2 separate regions of the Homo sapiens genome follow, and region 1 is linked to region 2. The links come from fine-mapping of genetic effects on gene expression. A gene starts in region 2. The other region holds a variant in brackets. All regions are shown on one strand. Distances are from middle to middle.

The links. PIP is the estimated chance that this variant, and not a neighbour inherited with it, causes the effect.
Region 1: its variant is the best candidate, but not a certain one, in a credible set for the expression of MLXIP in tibial nerve (GTEx, PIP 0.85).

Annotation. Positions count from the first base shown.
Region 1 is chr12:122,114,116-122,118,499 of GRCh38, forward strand. All of the region lies in intron 1 of MLXIP (MLX interacting protein), which reads left to right. Among named protein-coding and RNA genes, the nearest start is that of MLXIP, 38 kb to the left of the region's middle. The variant C/A (reference allele first, on the strand shown) is at 1,904.
Region 2 is chr12:122,076,362-122,080,745 of GRCh38, forward strand. MLXIP (MLX interacting protein) reads left to right here and starts at 2,395. Exons shown (of 17, transcript NM_014938.6): 1 at 2,395-2,905. The coding sequence starts at 2,493. RefSeq lists enhancers at 621-670, 2,738-2,977 and silencers at 1,938-2,217, 2,228-2,677.

The DNA of each region.
Region 1 (4,384 bases), 38 kb after region 2:
TAGCTGGGATTACAGGCATGTGCTACCACACCCGGCTAATTTTTGTATTTTTAGTAGACAGGGTTTCATCATGTTGGCCAGACTGTTATCAAACTCCTGACCTCAGGTGATCCACCCACCTCAGCCTCCCAAAGTGCTGGGATTACAGGCGTGAGCCACTGCGCCTGGCTGACTGCCTTCATTTCTAATACCAAATGCAAGTTGGGGAGTTCCCAAAACCACCCTCAGTTTCAATAATTCACTAGAAAAACAGAACGCACTGAAAAGTATTATATTCATGGTTGCAGTATATTATAAGGAAAGGATTCAAATTAAAATCAGCCAAGACGCAAGTTTTTACTGGACTTGATCCATTCTACCCCTGTGGTTGACCTTTAGTTTCTAGCCCCGCCCAGATGTCTGGCTAAGACCTTTAGTTAGCCTTTCCTCTGGAGGTTGGAACTGATACCCTGTGCTCCAGGCCCCCATTGTAAGTCAGATTGGTAACTGTTCTGTGGCCAAAGCCCCCAGGCAAACAAAGACACTCCCATCAGGCAGAACTAATTTCTAATTCCAGGGGCCTAGAATTCACCTCCCAGCAGCCCAGGGCAAAGGCTTGACCTCTCTTTGGGAAGGTGACTTCTTTTTTTTTTTTTTTTTTGGTGGGGGGGGACAGGGTCTCACTCTGTTGCCCAGACTGGAGTGCGGTGGCACGATCTCGGCTCACCTCAACCCCCACCTCCCGGGTTCAAGCGATTCTCCTGCTTCAGCCTCCTGAGTAGCTGGGATTACAGGTATGCGCCACTACTGCCCGGTTAATTTTTTTATTTTTAGTAGAGATGGGGTTTCATCATGTTGGCCAGGCTGGTCTTGAACTCCTGACCTCAAATGATCCACCTGCCTCAGCCTCCCAAAGTGCTGGGATTACAATCGTGAGCCACCGCACCCAGCCAGGAAGACTACTTCTTTGCTACACAATATTATCACCAAAATGTAACAGGTTATTTCTAGGTGGCGGAATTGAAGGTGAGTTTGCTTTTGTTCTTTGCACTTTTCCTTTTTGTTTGAATTTTCTTTTATTATGGATAGATATATATTTTAATCAATAAAACTACAAAAGCTTAAAAGATAAAAGTGAAAACTAAATCTCTGAACGGGTGGGAGGGCAGGCAGGGAAGCAGTACAAGAAATTCTAAAGAAAAACCAGTAGTGGCTGGGCGCGGTGTCTCACGCCTATAATCCCAGCACTTTGGGAGGCCGAGGCAGGTGGATCACCTGAGGTCGGGAGTTCAAGACCACCCTGGCTAACATGGTGAAACCCCGTCTCTACTAAAAATACAAAAAATTAGCTGGGCATGGTAGCGGGCACCTGTCATCCCAACTACTCAGGAGGCTGAGGAGGAGAACTGCTTGAACCTGGGAGGCAGAGGTTGCAGTGAGTGAAGATCGCACCATTGCACTCCAGCCTGGGCAACAAGAGCGAAACTCCTTCTCAAAAAAAAAAAAAAAAAGACCAGTAGAGATGACTACACAAATATGTAACCTACATTCAAAAGACATGCCATAAAAACAAGTAAAAGACAATGAAAATCCTAGGGGAAACATTTGCAGAAACATCACAAAGCATTAGTACCACTAATATTATAATATTGCGAATATAAAATAGCAAGGGAAACAATGGCTGACACCTGGGCACAGCTGTAATCCCAGTACTTCGGGAGGCTGAGGTGGGCAGATCACCTGAGGTCAGGAGTTCAAGACCAGCCTGGCCAACATGGCAAAACCCTGTCTCTACAAAAACACAAAAATTAGCCAGGCATGATGGCAGTACCTGTAATCCCAGCTACTTGGGAGGCTGAGGCAGGAGAATCACTTGAACCCGGGAGGTGGAGGTTGCAGTGAGCCAAGATCATGCTGCTGCAAT[C/A]CAGCCTGGGTGACAGAGCGAGACTCCATCTGAAAACACACACACACACACACACACACACACACACACAACATTGACATTTCAATGACTGTAAATGACGTGTAGTCTGTTTACCAGTAATGTCCCAAAGCCAATTTCCCGGCTTTGACATTGTGCTCCAGCGATACAAGAGCCACCACTGGGGAAAGCTGGGTGAAGGGTACGTGGAGCTCTTTGTTCCATTTGTGTGACTTCCTGAGAGTCTATAATTACTTCAGAATAAGTTTTTTTTTAATTTTATTATTATTATACTTTAAGTTTTAGGGTACATGTGCACAACGTGCAGGTTTGTTACATATGTATACATGTGCCATGTTGGTTTTTAGAAAAGGCAAAGGGCATGGGCAAACAGCTCAGAAAATATGGGGCACATGGCTAACGCGCAGGTTTTTAATTATGAAATTTCATTAACAAATGATGCAAATTGAAGTGAAATACCAAGTTTGCCTCTTGCAAATCTGGTTTCATCTCCAGTCCGGAGGAGCACCTTGGGGTCTGATTGGGGTTTACTCTTCTGGCGAGGAAACCTAGGACTCTGGCTTTAAATGGTGCCCTGCCCAGGGGTCCCTGCCCCTGCCCCTGCCTGAAAGTCCACTTATGGCTTGAATCTGACAGGAAACTTAAGAACATGCCCAAGAAGCTCCTAAAACTCAGGAGCATGCCTCACCATGCCCAGCATTGACCACGTGCTGGGCCCAGGCCCTCATATCTGCTATGGCTGACCCAGCTGTCCAGTGTGGTGGATGTGGTCACTGTTTTGCAGAAGGTGGGCTGGGCCGGGCCAGCCTGGGTGACGAGGCCAGAAATGGAACCACTCTGCTTTCTTTGTTGGTTAGAAGTGGTCTAGACATGGTGGTGTCTGTCCTCTAGTGGAAGGCCTGGACACAGCCCATCCCAGGCAGGGTGAAGTCACCATTGCAGGCAGGCACATCTTGCCTGGTATCCACTCCCTCAAGTTGCCCTATTTTTGGGTGGTCATGGAAATGATTACTCCCTGCTTTTCACACAGAAAAGACAAACATACACCCTCACAAACAAGCTGGCACGCATGTGGGCGGAGCACCTGCAGGCACTCGAACACTCGCACACTGGAGTGTGCACCAGCCTTCCCGCCACAGCCCTCGGATCCTACTTCTCCAACAGGATGTTCTTTGAATGTAAGAAAAAAGATGCCAAGAGATCCACGAGGAGGATGGAGCAGGACCTGAAACCCCCTGGGGTTCCTCCATAGGAGACTCTCTGCTCGGGCAGGTGGCCCGACATGCACACTGCCCCTCCTGTCAAGCCATTGGCAGTGGCCCCTCCCGCGTGCCAGCTCCTCAATGAACCTTTGTTCGTCTGTAGCCTGTTAGCTTTGGCTGCTGGCAGCCTGTGGGACCAGGCCCACATCCCAGGACTAGCCGATAGAGACTGCCCTTTTGAAGCAAGTGAATTGGACTCCTGGAAGAGTCATTCCTCCACTCCCTCATTGAAACCACCTAATAACCGTGATCCTCATATCTGGATCTGGTGCACAGAATTGACTGATATATCTGTTTTTGTGATGAATTGCCTTCCGCAATTAACTAGAAGCCCTAGAATGTCTTGGACCTTGCCTGGTCTTTTTTCCTTGTTTATTTTGAAAAAGTAATACAGTAGTCCCCCCTTATCTGAGGGGGTGTGTTCTAAGACCCCAGTGGATGCCTGAAAGCTCAGATAGTGCCGAACCCTGTATACAGTACATTTTTTTCACATGTTAGCTCTATACTTGTGATAAAGCTTAATTTATAAGTTAGGCACAGTAAGAGATTAACAACAATAATAACATAGAGCAATTATGACAATCTACTATTCACAATTGCATGGATAGAAAATCTGTTTTTACCATAGATCTTAGCAACCTCAGCCTTGTTAAGTTGAGAACTTGCACCTTTTCACTTAATGAAAGCACTTTAAGGCTTCTCTAGGTCATATCTGAATTGCCAGCATCACTACTCTTATGCTTTGTGGCCATTATTAAGTAAAATAAGGGCTACCTGAACATAAGCACTGTGATACCACAACCATGGATCTGATCACTGAGATGGCTGCTAAGTGACTTAGCAGGTGGGTGGCAACTACAGTGTGGATCTGCTGGACAAAGGGATGAGTCATGTCCCAGGCGGGACAGAGCGGTACGGCGTGAGATTTTGCTATTCCAAATGGTGCACGGTTTAGGATTTATAGATTGTTTATTTCTGCAACTTTCCATGTAATATTTTCAGACAGCGGTTGATCATGGGTAAAGCACAATACCGCAGAAAAGGGAGGAATGCCGTACATTCCAGTGTTATATTTCAACAATACAAAACGGTGTTCAGTGAACACTCCTTCTCACTGGACCCCTTGCTTCTCCAGCTCATCTCTGCAAAGGGAAATCGCTGTGGCACTCTTACCTTTTCTTATGTATCCATCTTGGCTGTC
Region 2 (4,384 bases):
GAGGTGGGAGGATAGCTTGGGCAGGGGAGGTTGAGGCTACAGTGAGCCACGATCACACCAATGTGACACAGTGAGACCCTGTCTCAAAAAAAAAAAAAAAGAAAGAAAATATAGGTAAACACAAAGACAAAAAAGCAGGGCATGGTGGCTCACACCTGTAATTCTAGCACCTTGGGAGGCTGAGGCAGGAGGATCACTTGAGGTCAGGAACTCGAGACGAGACCAGGCTGGGCAGCATGGCGAGACCCCATCTCTATAAAAAGTACAAAAATTAGCAGGGCACGGTGGTGTGCACCTGTGGTCCTGCTACTTGGGAAGTTGAGGTGGGAGGATCACCTGAGCCCTGGAGGTTGAGGGTGCTGTGAGCCATGATGGCACCACTCCACTCCAGTCCAGGTGAAAGAGCCAGATCCTGTCTCAAAAAAAAAAAAAAAAAAAAGTGGCTGGGCATGTAAACTTACCAAGGACCAAGGAGACAAGTCTTGAGAGAAAGGAAGGCAACTCAAAGGATGGACTTTTAAACACTTGTAACCAGCATTGGGAACAGTAGTAGGTTGAAGAGGGAAATCTAGAACTCATGCCTGAAAACTGCCAGTCATCCAGCCCATTTTTCCATACAGACATTTGGAAATAAGTTAATGGAGCCATTTTGGTGAGAGCCCTCTGTTCCCTTCAGGAGGCCTTTGTCAGGAAGAGGGTGGGGCAGGGGACTCACCCCCCACTCAAATCTGGAACTGAAACCAGCTTCAAAGCCGAGTGCAGAGCCAGCGCGGTGGCTCATGCCTGTCATCCCAGCACTTTGGGAGTCCAAGGCAGGCCTCACTTGAGGTCAGGAGTTCCAGACCGGCCTGGCCAACATGGTGATTGCACCACTGCGCTACAGCCTTGGGTGACAGAGCAAGACTCTGTCTCAAAAAACAAAACAACAATAAAACAAAGCAGAGTGCAGGAGTGGCTGTGGACTCTGGACGCCCTGCTAGGATTAGGATGGGTGTTCCTGGCTCATGGGCCTCACTGGCTCTTCTGATGCCCTGCCACCCCCACCCCAGACTGGCTTTGAGCCCCGGAAACCTTGACAGCTTTCTAGAGGTGTCTGTCAGTTAGGTTGTGCCACGCGAAGTTGCCGTTTCTGCAGGTCAAATAGTGGTGGACTATTGGCAATTTCTAGGCACCTCTGGTCTGGTTGATCCAAATCCTCCAACCTGTGGCACATTTATTTAGCGCTCATTTTGTGCCAGCCTGCCTGCTAAGCAACTTATAGCCATTTTTATTTGTATTTATTTTTCTTTTTGAGACAGGGCCTCGCTCTGTCGCCCAGGCTAGAGTGCAATGGCGCAATCTCGGCTCACTGCAACCTCCACCTCCCGGATTCAAGCGATTCTCCTGCCTCAGCCTCCCGAGTAGCTGGGATTACAGGGGTGCACCACTACGACCGGCTAATTTTTGTTATTTTTAGTAGAGACAGGGTTTCACCGTGTTGGCCTGGCTGGTCTTGAACTTCTGGCCTCAAGTGATCCACCCGCCTCGGCCTCCAAAAGTGCTAGGATTACAGGCATGAGCCACCGCGCCCCACTATAGCCATTTTTAAACTGTCCCAAGTTTCTGAGGAAACGGAATTGTTCACCATTTGACAGAGAAGAAAACTCTGGCTCAGATACTCCCCTTTTAGAATTGTTTCGGGGGCTGGCTCGTCCGTCAAACTTTAAAAAAATAACAACAGCATGCTGAGTTGAAGTTAAAAGAGCTGGGGTCTGGAGGTCGCTGGGCTCAGGGGCGCTGCCACTCAACAGCTGCGCCGAGCTGGGGACGCGCAGGGGAAGCAAGTTCCCAGCTCTGTGGACTCCAGGTCTGAGAAAAATCCTGTCGGTATTCAGCCACCCAGTGTTCCCATCAATACGATGAGAATAATGAGGACAATAGCCACCACGTCCGGCAAACTCAGGCGTGAGCTGCGAGGACTCGGTACCGCCCGGCAGGGAAAAAGCAGGGCCTGGAGGCCGAGGAGCCCCACCCGCACCCACCACGTGGAGCCGGCCGGGCCTGCGGCGAAGCCACAGGGCGACTCCCGGGGCGCGGAGCGGGGCGGGGGCGGGACTAGCACGGCCCCACTCTGCCGACGCCTCTCCCAGGTCGCGACACCGGCGAGCCGCTCCGCCCGGCCACCGTGTCCCTCAGCACCCACGGACGCCGGGAGAGGAGGAGGTGGCGAGGGGCACGGCCGGGAGGCGTGGCCTCCGCTTCCCCTTTTTTTTTTTTTTTGGTCCGCCTAGCTAAGGAAAGGTTCCCCTGCGCCTTTAAGAGGCCGACGCGGGCAGCCGATTGGCCCAGACGCCTCGGTGACGTCACGCCGGGGCCGGAGCCCTCCCCCTCCCGCCGCGCCGCGCGCTCGCGGACAGTCGGCGCGCGGGCCGGGCCGGGCCGGCGCCCCTCTGCCTCGCGCGCTTGTCGCGTTGCCCCGGGCTCCGGGGGATGCCCCCGGCCGAGCCCTTCTCATGGCCGCCGACGTCTTCATGTGCTCCCCGCGCCGGCCTCGCAGCCGGGGCCGCCAGGTGCTGCTCAAGCCCCAGGTGTCCGAGGACGACGACGACTCGGACACGGATGAGCCGTCCCCGCCGCCCGCCTCCGGCGCGGCCACCCCGGCCCGGGCCCACGCGAGCGCCGCGCCACCGCCGCCTCGGGCCGGGCCGGGCCGCGAGGAACCTCCGCGCCGCCAGCAGATCATCCACAGCGGCCACTTCATGGTGTCGTCGCCGCACCGAGAGCACCCGCCCAAGAAGGGCTACGATTTCGACACGGTCAACAAACAGACGTGCCAGACCTACAGCTTCGGCAAGACTAGCTCCTGCCACCTGTCCATCGACGCCTCGCTCACCAAGCTCTTCGAGTGCATGACTTTGGCCTACAGGTAGGGACCCCCGCGACCCCCTGAGGCCCCGGCCGGAGGCCCTTGTTTGACAAAACAAGCGTGGAGGGAAGGGCCGCCTGGCAACCCCGTGGCTTCATGCATTCCCTTTGGGTCTTCCTCCTTCGGGAGGGTTTATGGATCTGGGGTTCCCCGCGTTGCCAGAGGAGCCGGGGTCCTGGCCTCTTCCCCTGCCAGCAGTGCCGGGGTCCTTTCGGGTTCACGTTCCCCATCCAGGCCCTCCCCTCCAGTGTCCTGGGACCACCGATGTTGGACGAGGAAGAGGTATAAACACTGGCTGCATCTTGTGTTACCCGACTCTATCGACTCCTTCCTCCAAACGCTTTGTGTGTTTCCCCCATATCCAGCAGCGGTCAGGACCACCTGTTCGGGGTGACTGGAGGCTGGCTCTGCTGTTTAATGGTTGTGTAACACCTCGGAGCCTGTTTCCTCCTTTATAAAAGGGGAATGACTGTAGTGTCTGCCTCCAAGGGGCTGTTGTGGGGATGGAGTGAGATAGGTAAATTGCTTATTCCAGTGCTTGGCCAGAGTTAGGTGTCCCTGCACCTGGAGGCTGGCCCCCTTACAACCTCATCGGGAGGCCCGCCCCCATCTCGGGAGGGCTTTGGGTGCCTCCTAAGAAGACTTTTGGTGCCACAGCTGTTGGAGGTGCAGTCTGTCCTTCTGGCAAGTTGGAGGGTTTTCTGGCCGGTCCTGAAACATTATATGAGGGAGATGTCATTGTTGAGGGCAGACATCCCAGACACCGTTCTGACATGTGGATTCGGCTCTGGGCAGAGATTCCTCTTTTCCAAGTCACAGAAAATGCCTGGCCCTCAAAGATTAAAGCGCTTTTTCACTCTCTCTCCCTTTCCCACTATGAATATTAGGTATTTGCTGCAGGTAACTTTTTTGTCTGCGCAACAGAACTTCTTTGGACTGGCAGCAGCGGCCTTGAGCAGCTTGGCCCTGCAGAAAGCTCATGATGGGATCTCTGCTGAGTTAAGCTTATTGCATTAGGAACTGGACTAGCGGGGGCTGTCTTAGGTCTGCTCTGGAGGCATCGCGGGAGAAGTTTCCTAGGAGACTCCATAAACAGCGTAATAAAAGAGCAGGAATATCTTGCCCCCTCTCACCTCACCTTTTTAAGAGAGCTGTGAGCCCCAAGCATATCCAGGTTTAAATGTTATGCTTTTACCTGAAGTTAAAATATTAGATACTTAGCCCTGGATGGCACCCCCCTCACCGCCGCGGTCCCTGGAATAAACGATTAGTCAACTTGTTCTTTGTTATGTTCCTGAAACACCCCTATTTCCTCTCTTGAAGGTTTCCCTGATGATCTGTTCCCGTAGCTCCTCCTCCCATCCCCCTTACCCGGCACATTGGTCAGTCTCTGCTGATTCTCTGGTCTTGCCAGTTTGAGCTGGCACTGAGCCTGTAAAGATGTTCTGCTTTTTAAAAAACAAATGGTGTTGAGGCTGC